2 separate regions of the Homo sapiens genome follow, and region 2 is linked to region 1. A link means that fine-mapping ties the variant in region 1 to the expression of a gene that starts in the linked region. Tissue or cell type: whole blood. Region 1 holds a variant in brackets; the other region holds the start of a gene. All regions are shown on one strand. Distances are from middle to middle.

Evidence for each region. PIP is the estimated chance that this variant, and not a neighbour inherited with it, causes the effect.
Region 2: TBCK starts here. The variant in region 1 is fine-mapped to the expression of TBCK in whole blood (TOPMed, PIP above 0.99).

Annotation. Positions count from the first base shown.
Region 1 is chr4:106,259,183-106,264,182 of GRCh38, forward strand. TBCK (TBC1 domain containing kinase) reads right to left here. Exons shown (of 26, transcript NM_001163435.3): 4 at 2,916-3,030; 5 at 1,255-1,328. Among named protein-coding and RNA genes, the nearest start is that of TBCK, 55 kb to the right of the region's middle. The variant G/A (reference allele first, on the strand shown) is at 2,921.
Region 2 is chr4:106,314,197-106,319,405 of GRCh38, forward strand. It overlaps TBCK (TBC1 domain containing kinase), which reads right to left and starts at 2,013. Exons shown (of 26, transcript NM_001163435.3): 1 at 1,735-2,013. AIMP1 (aminoacyl tRNA synthetase complex interacting multifunctional protein 1) reads left to right here and starts at 2,354. Exons shown (of 7, transcript NM_001142416.2): 1 at 2,354-2,398. RefSeq lists enhancers at 1,593-1,682, 1,763-1,822, 2,313-2,562.

The sequences.
Region 1 (5,000 bases):
TAAACTTAAAAAATTTAGTTAAGAAACCTGTAATTTGAGTTATAAAGAAAAAAGGGCAAGTTATATATGAGGCTGGCTTTAAAAAAAAAATCAAATTAAGTTTTTGAGTAACATTCTGTTTGAAAAACACACTCCATGACTCCATATCACAATTCTCAGTAACGGTGTGATAGAACTGATTTTAGGAAGCCCAAAGAGGAAAACACAAATGGATACTATCAAAAACAGTCACATTACAATTGAAAAAATATGATTAATGTCTCTAGGTTAGATAATAATACTGCATCAAGTTTAGTTTCCTTGTTTTGACAACTGTTCTGAGGTCATGTAAAAAAACAAAGTCCTTCTTTTAGAAAATACAAACTGAAGTACTTACAGGTTAAAGTGCTATTATGTAATTAATTACTCTTAAGTGATTATAAAAAACAATCATTATACACATACACACATATATGCTCGGAGAAAAAACAGAGAAAAAGCAAATGTAGTGAAATGTTAACATTTGGAGAAACTGATGAAGGGTAGAGAGGAATTCTTTATACTATTTTTGTAACTATTTTATCTAAAACAATCTCAACTTAATCTTCAGAAAAGAAAATAATAATGAAAATGTCTAAAAGCAACCACACAAATATAACACAGAAATCCGTATCAAAAACATCTACTTGAATATGCATGAAACAACCTTCCATTTCTTTTGTGGAGGGCAACATACATCTGCAATTCCATAACAGAAGTGATTAAATAAACCTTTCTGAACTTAAACATAGACTTTCAGGTATGGAATTTATCTCTATCTCTAATATCCACAATGACTCAACTTGAATCTTAATATATATCTTAGAGAAAAGGGAATTAAACATAAAACATTAAATTGAAAATAATGTGAGAGTGATGTTTTTCAGTCTCTTGATGCACACACATTATCATTAGTTGAGAATCTAGTCATCCTTCTTGCCTTAAGTTGATTTGATTCTGAATGAAATACAGATAATTAGGAAATATTATAATGTAAAGAATGTCAATACTGTTAGCTTCTCTGCCAATTCAATGAATGATGAACATCAACGAGGATGCTGGGAAAAACTCATTGTCTACTCATTTTAAAAGTATATGGAAAATTGAGATGCATTAATTTTAAAAAAGCTGTTTGCATATCAAAAAGGAATATCAAATATAATTAACAAAATATACATGTTATCAAAGATTACAAAGTTAAAAAGAAACTCAAAATAGAGGAAAACATATCCTTACCCTATTGGGAAATCAACATCATCACCATGAGCTGTCATGTGATAAAGTCCAAATTTAGCCAATTTAATATGTCCCTATGATAATAAAGAAAAAAAACACTATCAAATAATTTATTATAATTGGCAACATATAATTTATATTATAAAATTATCATTATACATTTTATAACTAAAGAAACCATTATATAACAATATTTTATCAAAATGCCACTGTAGATTTTAAAAAATCATAATTTTATAAAAAACTATCTGCCAATAGTCTGCTTTATACTCATTAAATATGTATATATGCATATGTACACATATATATCTCAAAATGACAAATGACATTTTTCTTTAATATTTTTGCTGTTACATTGTCTAGTTATTTCACAAAACAAAAAGGCAAAAACATTCTCATCTGTCTTGAAACCTTGGTTAGAATGTTTTGTGGTAATTTTCACAGAGCAAATTTTTTTCCATGGAGTTGAAAGTCCATTTATAGTTATAATTTAACTGTGAAATAGGAAAACTTAACTTGAAAAGATCAGTTCAAAAATCATCAAGATTTTGGTGAATCTGCTAGATTTTCAATAACTTTTTATATTGTTTGAGAACAAAAATAACTATCATAAGTATAAGGCTCTTAATAAATGATAAATATAATTTTACATATTTTAAGTTTTTCCCTTTTAATCTATAAGGCTTTAAAATATTAAGTTGATCTTAAAATTGGTTTGTCTTCTCAAGAACATTATTTCCAAGCATTATAAAATATTTATATTTAAAAACAGCTTAAATTGATAAGGTAATGATTCTTTACTGCCATAAATCTGAAACTAATGAGTACAATTTTCTATTTTTGTGTTTGTGTGTTTGTTTTTTAGAGACAGGGTCTCACACTGTCATCCAGGCTGGAGTGCATTGGTGTGATTATAGCTCACTGCAGCCTCAAACTCCTGGGCTCAAGCAATGTTCTCATCTCAGCCTCCCAAGTATTGATTTGGGAAAAGAACCAGAGAACAAGGATAATCCTAACACAGCAAATAATGCCCATGAAAAAATTTCCTCCAAGTTGTTTTTATGTATTTTATGAAAAGGAATCAAATTACAATTATTCCTGAAAATATATAACCTTACTATCCATAATTCTCTTTGAAGGGTTTACAAGCTTCTTCTTAATGCCCCATAAGATTTCCAGTAGAGAAACAGCACTTCAATAGTAAAAGGAGGTAGGCATGAACAGTTGGTAAATAAGGAGATAAATAGAAGAGGAAAGAAGGCAGAAGAAAAATAGAGAAAACACAATGCAGTTGGTTTATATGAATAACATTCTAGCAAAAAGAGCCATTTTCTTAAAAATGAAAATAAATTAAGAGGAGGAGTATACTGGGACGCCACAAGGCTTTAGAAATAAGAGTAAAATAAAAAAACCATAAAGTTAGAAAATGGGTCTTGTGGGAAAAATAATCCATGTGAAAGATATACAGATTAAATAATTTAAGGATTATTTAATCCTTAAATTCAAAAACCACAGTTACATCACTTTCATATAGACTTTTCATTATGAATATTCTTAAAACATATTCTGATTCTATTGTTCCTCTGACTGAGTAGCCCTGATCCCAGTTGCTTCCAATTTCAAATGATATATAAATATTTATTACATGATTTAACAATTACCTTTC[G/A]GTCCAACAGGATATTATGAGGAGACAATGCCCTGTGTACTATACCATGTTTGTTCATATACTGCAAGCCCTGAAGAACCTCAAATGCTATACACAAAACCGTTGAACAGCTACAAAGAAAACAAAAAGTCAAAGATCAATTACAAAGCAAATAAATAACTTGTTTTAACAAGTGAAATGTGACCTAGTGAAAATATTCAAAAAGTTATATTTTTATTGCTCCTCTTTTATTCTGAGAAAATAGAATCTATATATTTTCTAAAATATCTACCTCTACATATTTTAGGTTTTCTGATTATAACAGAATTAATCTGACAAAGATCCTACAGTTTCCTAAAGGCTACTGTAATAGCAGTATTTGGTTCTTCCACGAAAGGGCTTTAATTTTGGTGGTGAGTGCAACTAACCTATAGCAGGTTTGGCTTCGCCAAATTATCAGGTTAAGTTTCAAGTATATGGCAGAACTAAGTCACTAAAAACTATTTTGCTCAATACAAAATACCTAAGCCCCCGAAAAAAGTAGTAACAATATATTTTATGGTATACAAACACTAGCTTATTTTCCATATTCAACCTATAAAGCAATCTCTGGTCATTTATGATTTAGCAAACTTTTCTCTTTAATTCTTATCCTATCCTCTACAAGCCATCCTTCACACAGATATCCTCCAGTTTCCTTCTCCTTTTCCCTCCTTGTCTCTCTCACCAACCATCTCCCTAATTTTTTTTCCAATTTGCAAGTCTACTCATGCAAATTATCAGGAAACAGGTACTGTATTTGGGTAAATACTGCTACTTAGCAGTAGTAAGTAGGATTTGGAACATGTTTTAATTTTTATTATTACACTTTATAAAGTATGGATTGTTCATTTGCAGACATTGGTGCCTGCATTAAAATATTTTCTTGTCAACATTCCTTTTCTTTTTGAAAAGTTCAAATCTCAGAGCATAAGACAAATGTAATACTCACATACAATTAACCTAGCTTTATTAATTATCCTCTAATGTTTTAATCAAAAATTGTTCACATAGGAAATTTCCCCATACCTACAATATTAACATTTTCCTTTCTATCCATTTTTTTTAAATTTTTCTAAAATTAAATTAGTGTTTGCAGATAGCCACTAAACATAATTTTTAAAACCAATAGTAGAGATAATATGGAATAATAAAAAATATTCAATCCACAAACAGGCAGAATAAAAGGAAAAAAGAACAGAACAAATAGAAAATGACTAATAGATTAAGTACAAATGGTCTCAATTCACCAATTAAAACATAAGGATTGTCAGATTTGATAAGAATTTAAACTCAGCTATACTCAGTCTATGAGAAACGCACTAAATAAAAGACATAGGTTAAAAGTTAAAAAATGGACTAACAGATTGCCATGGGCTTGGGTGGGGGGTAGGTGGACTACAAAAGAGTATGAGAAAGTTTTGTGGCATGAGGGAACTGTTCTATCCTTGATTTTGATGATGGTTACATAATTTTGTTTATCAAACTCATTAAACTTTACATAAAACAGGGTAAATGTTAAGGTATGTAAATTATACCTTAATAATCCTGACTTTAAAAAATACTAGATTGAATAAAATTTTTACAAAAATAATTGTTGCAACCTGATTCTCTCTCCGAAATTAAAACCAAAAGAAATAACCAGAGATAAAAGCTAAAATTTGCCTCTATGATCCTAGTTTGACTTTCCAGAGGGAATCAGCAGGTTTTGTTTTCAATTCTTCTGGTGGTTAGATTTTTACTTACTTACTAACTCTTCACTATGCAAGAGGATATAATTGACGTATTTTCACAACTTTCCTATTTTTCTTCCTCAAGTCCTTTTTATTACATTGTTTTACATTAACAAATTTTATTTTACATTATCAAATAATCATCAGCAGGTAGTTTTCAATTCTGGTGGTAGACTTTTACTTAATATAACTAACTCTTCATTCTGCAAGAGGATACAGTTGTCATATTTTCACAACTTCCCCAATTTTCTTCCCAAACTTCTTATCTGTATTCATTATATTGTTTTTACATTATCAAACAGTAAGTGGGATAAAGGAAACCTACACTC
Region 2 (5,209 bases), 55 kb after region 1:
ATGTAGTTTCTGAAGTGATAAAGAAAAAGGTAGAATCACTACTTTTCTCGTTTTACCAAACAAGGAGTCAAATATATTTTCAAAAGTTGATGTGAAAAAAGTAGTTTACGTATATTATTTTGAATTATAAAGTAACCAATACAAAAACTAAAAATTATGATTATGACTCTTCCAAAATTCAGAGGAGATTGTGAATGGTGTGGGCTATTTCTAGAAGTCAACGGAAAAAGAATTAGCAGTTCAACTTAGGGCTATCTCAAGAAGTCAACAAAAAGAATTAACAGTTTAACTTATTATTTAACCTACAGACCTAAAATTAGAAAAGGTTAAAAGTGGTTATCTTTGAAGAACAGTACTGAGAGTAGGACAGGTGAGACAGTTGCACTTTATTATTCAATCCTACTACGCTATACTACTTGATTTTTTTTTTTTTTTTTTTTTTTTTTGAGACAGAGTCTCACTCTGTCATCAAGGCTGGAGTGCAGTGGCATGATCTCGGCTCACTGCATCCTTCCACCTCCCGGGTTCAAGCGATTCTGTGCCTCAGCCTCCAGAGTGGCTGGGATTACAGGCGCCCGCCACCACGCCCGGCTAATTTTTGTATTTTTAGTAGAGACGGGGTTTCACCATCCTGGCCAGGCTGGTCTTGAACTCCTGACCTCAGGTGATCCACCCGCCTCGACCTCCCAAAGTGCTAGGACTACAGGCGTGAGCCACCGCGCCCGACCATTTTATTTTCAATCAGATGTCTTTATCATCACATAGCTGAAAATAAAATAACCAAATAAAACACAATGATCGAAAAAGATAAAACACTAATTAGCATAATCAGTGTTCTTTTTCCACTACCTCTTAAATGGTTGTACATAAAAAGGCTCACACACAAAAATACACACACATACATTCACTTACACCTCGTGAGTGGAAGAAAACTACCGGGGGAAAAAAAACGTAGAGATGAGAGATTAGATGAGGGAAACAGCAGTGCAAGCAGTTGGGCTTGAAAATTCATTCATTCAACAAATATTTTGAAGCCCCTATTTTAAGTCAGTTGTTTTTCCAGCTGGTGGGCAAAGGATAATGAACAAGTCAGACTCTGTGCCCTCAAAGAACTTAGAGTTTTAAACGACTCGAATGGGGAAAGAAAGTAAAAAATAGGGCAAAAGACGCCGATTTTATCATGAATAAAATTTCACATTTCTTCAACAGGAAAATGATACTAATTCATTTATTTTATATATACATTCTCTCAAGAGGTTATTTTTGTCTCAAATAGATAGAAACCAGGACAGGGATCCTTGAAAAGCAGCCACTGACAATCCTCAAGTAACTTCCTTCCTCTGCTTCACTTTCTCCTACTGCTCAAGGGGGTGTTACACTTTGACGACTGACTAAACCTCGAGGGCCAGAAACAAACCAAAGCAAAATTCTGCCTCCAAGGTGAGTAATGGAGGGGCGGATTCTAGATTCTCTAACCTCCTTTAGCCTTCCTTTGAGGCAGTGACAGAGCGATTACTAAGCCTACGGTTCCCAAACGACTCAGGTGAACCTGATTTACAGGAAAGGCGGGCTGTAGCTAGGGATGGAGACAGTACCTATCAGCAAGCGGCTCCACAGCTCGGTTCTCTATCTATTCTGAAGACATGCGGGGCCACTCACTGCTCCTGATAGTCCTCTACCTCCCACAGACCCCACCCACTACGACACGGAAAACTGGATTACCCAAATACCTGCCTCTGAGTCTGGGGACGCAGGCAAGCACAAAGACAAGGGGGATGGAGCTTCTACACAGGGCCCCAGCGCTGTCGCTGTGGCTGCTGCTGCCGCTACGGCTTAGTGCACCAGACGCTGCATTTCAGGTGCTCCTACAAAAGAGGCCACTCCTGGAACGCCGGGAGCTCAGACGCTGCCCTTTGCTCGCGAGCCAAGTCAGCCAAGGTTAACCTTCGCGGAACCCGGCGAGGAGCGCAAGCCTGGCCTTCCCCAAACACAGATCCGAGCTTTTCACCCTCTACCCTCCCCTCAGCCTGGCCTTTTCTTCCGCCCTCACAGCCACCGCGACCCAACGCTGAGGAAAGACCCCGACTTGTGGTGTCCTTCCCCTTGCCCAAACTGGCCACGAAAGGACATATAGCGAGAGAGAAAGAGGTGCGGGGGGACGGGGGGGGTCGATTGAAAATACTGGGTGAGGGAATGGAAGACGAGGAGCGTGGTATGGCAGGTTAATGGGACTGAGCACAGGAAGAGGAAGAAAGAATTGAGGGTTGAATCTGTAGAACACTCAGGCTTTCAGCAAGGACACCTCATTGGGTCCTTTCTCACTGCTATAGTACGCGGGTGGCTGGACCTACATGCTTCCTGCTGTGGCTGTCTCGGAACCCGTGGTCCTCCGCTTCATGTGAGTGACGTCGTGGCGGGTCACTCACTCGGGGATCGCCGATTGCGATCGTAGGGGTCTTCCTTCTCTAACTTGCCTCCAGGAGAGAGGACCTGGCCTGCGCTGCTAATGGGTAGTCCGTTCGCAGCAGGACCAGCCCTGGCCTAAGGAAACAGGAAAGAGTTTGAGACTTCCTTCTAAAGGAGCCACGTTTGAGAAATGGGATGCAGGCCTAAGTTAAGAATGCTACAGAAAAATATCGATCCCTAAGCGTATTTACTGTTATGTGAATGTGTGTGTCAAAGGACTTAGGTGCTTTGGGGGAGAGGAGGGTGAAGACAGGAATTTATTCATTGAGCGAATAGTTATTAAGCGCCCACTCTATTCCAGACACCGTTCTAGGCATTAGGTGAACAGCAGTGAACAAAACAGACGGAAATCTGTGTCTACTTGTAGCTCACATTTTAGAGAGGAAGGCACATACTAAGCAAAGTAATTAGAAACATACTGTATTTTAGGTCGTGATAGTCCTGAAGAGAAACGTAAAGCAGGGAAGAAGGGTATAAAGTGACACAGGAAGGTCTTGCTGAAAAGATGACTTTTAAGTAAAGGGCTGACAGAAGTGGGAGATTTAACCACGCGAATATCTTGGGAAAGTGCAGTCAGACAGAGGGACCAGCCATTGCAGAGGTCATGAAGCAGAAACGTGCTAGAATAGCAAGGAGGCCTGTAGGGCAGAGTTGAGTGAAGGGTTTAGTCCTTCACTGGAGATTAAATCAAGGCGAGCAGGTCATGAAGATCTTGAGGACATCTAACTTTTATTCTAAATGAAATAGGACTTTGGAGCGTTTTGAGCAGTAGAGTGATGGGCTCTGACTTCCTTTTAAGAGGGTCACTCTTTAAGGAAAATACACAGAGGAGGACGTGGTAGGAGAAAGGAGACCAATAAGAAGAGTTTTGCAATAATCCAGAGGAAGCATAATGGTGGTTTGACTATGGGTGGTAAGAAATGGCCAGTTATATTCTTGATGCACTTAATTTGGATATGTAAGAGTATTATAGATGACAGGGTTAATTTTATTTAATTAGGCTTTGGAGGACACTTGAAAAATGAATTCCAGTGTGAGTTTCAGAGTGGCAAACACAAGTTAAAATCATGGCTTTGCTATGTGGTACTTGAAGGGATTCAGATAAGTCATGTAATTTTCCTGGATCTGTCTATAAAATGGAAATCACATCTGTCAAGATTGCAAAGGTTAGGGTATATTATAGGTATTTAATGACAAGGTATGTAATGGGTCTAGTCTGCAAATCTTAACCAGGTAAAAGATGGCCTTATTGTGAGGTAAGAGGGTCATGGGAGGCCAAGGCATACTCCTTTTTAAATTTTATGGACTCTGTACTGGGGAGGAAAGTTTTTGTGTTAATGACGATGGTATTTAGAAATGCATGGACTGGCCTCTCATAGCTGTCCACCCTATAGTCATTCCTTATAGCCATCCTTTAAACCCTCCAGGACCCCCTATGTCCTCATCAGTAAAGGGAAAGCAGGCTGTCTGGTAAGGGAAATAGGAACTTCCATAAAAAAGCAATTTTAGATATTCTTTTTATAGGTTTTGGCAAAGGTTGATAAAAGACCTAGGGAATTACTGCTGGTTGCTGCGCTTACATATTTTGAGTGTCTTCAGATGCATTGTTCTCAGTGTATTTAATTTTCTTCTTTAAATTCTGACTTTTGACACATATGATTTAAATCCTAGCAGGAATTTTCACCTAGTGCTAAAAGGTACCACATTGCTTTACACTATAATAAGGACGGTCTTTCAGTGTGGGGTATTTTATGTATACTATAATATTTTTACATATCCAGTAATTAGATTGTGTAGCAAATCAGGGAAAGAAGTTGGAAGGCAAGAATAGGAATGAAGGGAGGAGAAGAAAGGAAGAAAATGATTAAAATTACTATATTCCATCAATTCTGAGATACACATTTTTCTCTTACTTAACATCTCTGAAATAGGGATGTATTTTTAAGTTGTTGACATCTTTAAATCACTGTAGATGAATTGGCAGTTGTGAGATATTTGTCATTGCCCACACTTACACCCACTTAGTCATAACTTAATCTTGTCATTATTTCAGTTGAGTTATATATGCACTATTGGCATATAGTTGTTGAGTGTAATTTCCCTTTTAAAGATCATTTAGAAGATTATGATTAGCATTAGAATGAAAAGTTACTGTGTATGTGGGGAAACAAAGGGTGATACAAGATAAAAATCCAGGGTTAAATTTAAAAGAAGTCTGTCAATAAATAATATAGGATGTGTCTAAGTAATAAGAAAGCATTGGGTCAGTTGATTCAATAGTGTTTTTTTTCATAATGTACATAAAATAATAGAGCTTCTTGGGATTGAAGCCATTTTACAATTGATGGCATTTTAGATTTCTTGTATAGTATTTAAAGCTTCCAACAAAAATGTAAATTTTTACCTACTGTAATTCTGAAATAGGGAAATTAGAGGTTTTGAGTAGAGACACTTTCAAATTTGTGTAGCGTTCCTATATAGCATAAGAATTCTAAAATTAAAAGTCTGCCTGTAAAACTTTGATTTCAAAGTAGTAACTTACTTATGTTTGATTCCCAATGTTGTCATCGTGGGGCAGAGATTTTGCTTTTTCAAAAAGATTGCAGGCAATTTAGATGGTGTGGGTGGGGAGGACTACTGAGGAAATTGCTCAGTAAACAAAAATGATAGTGAAGATCTCAGAATCTCAAAAATCATCTTTTGTGTGTGTATTTTAATGATTAAGATGTACTATAAATTCATG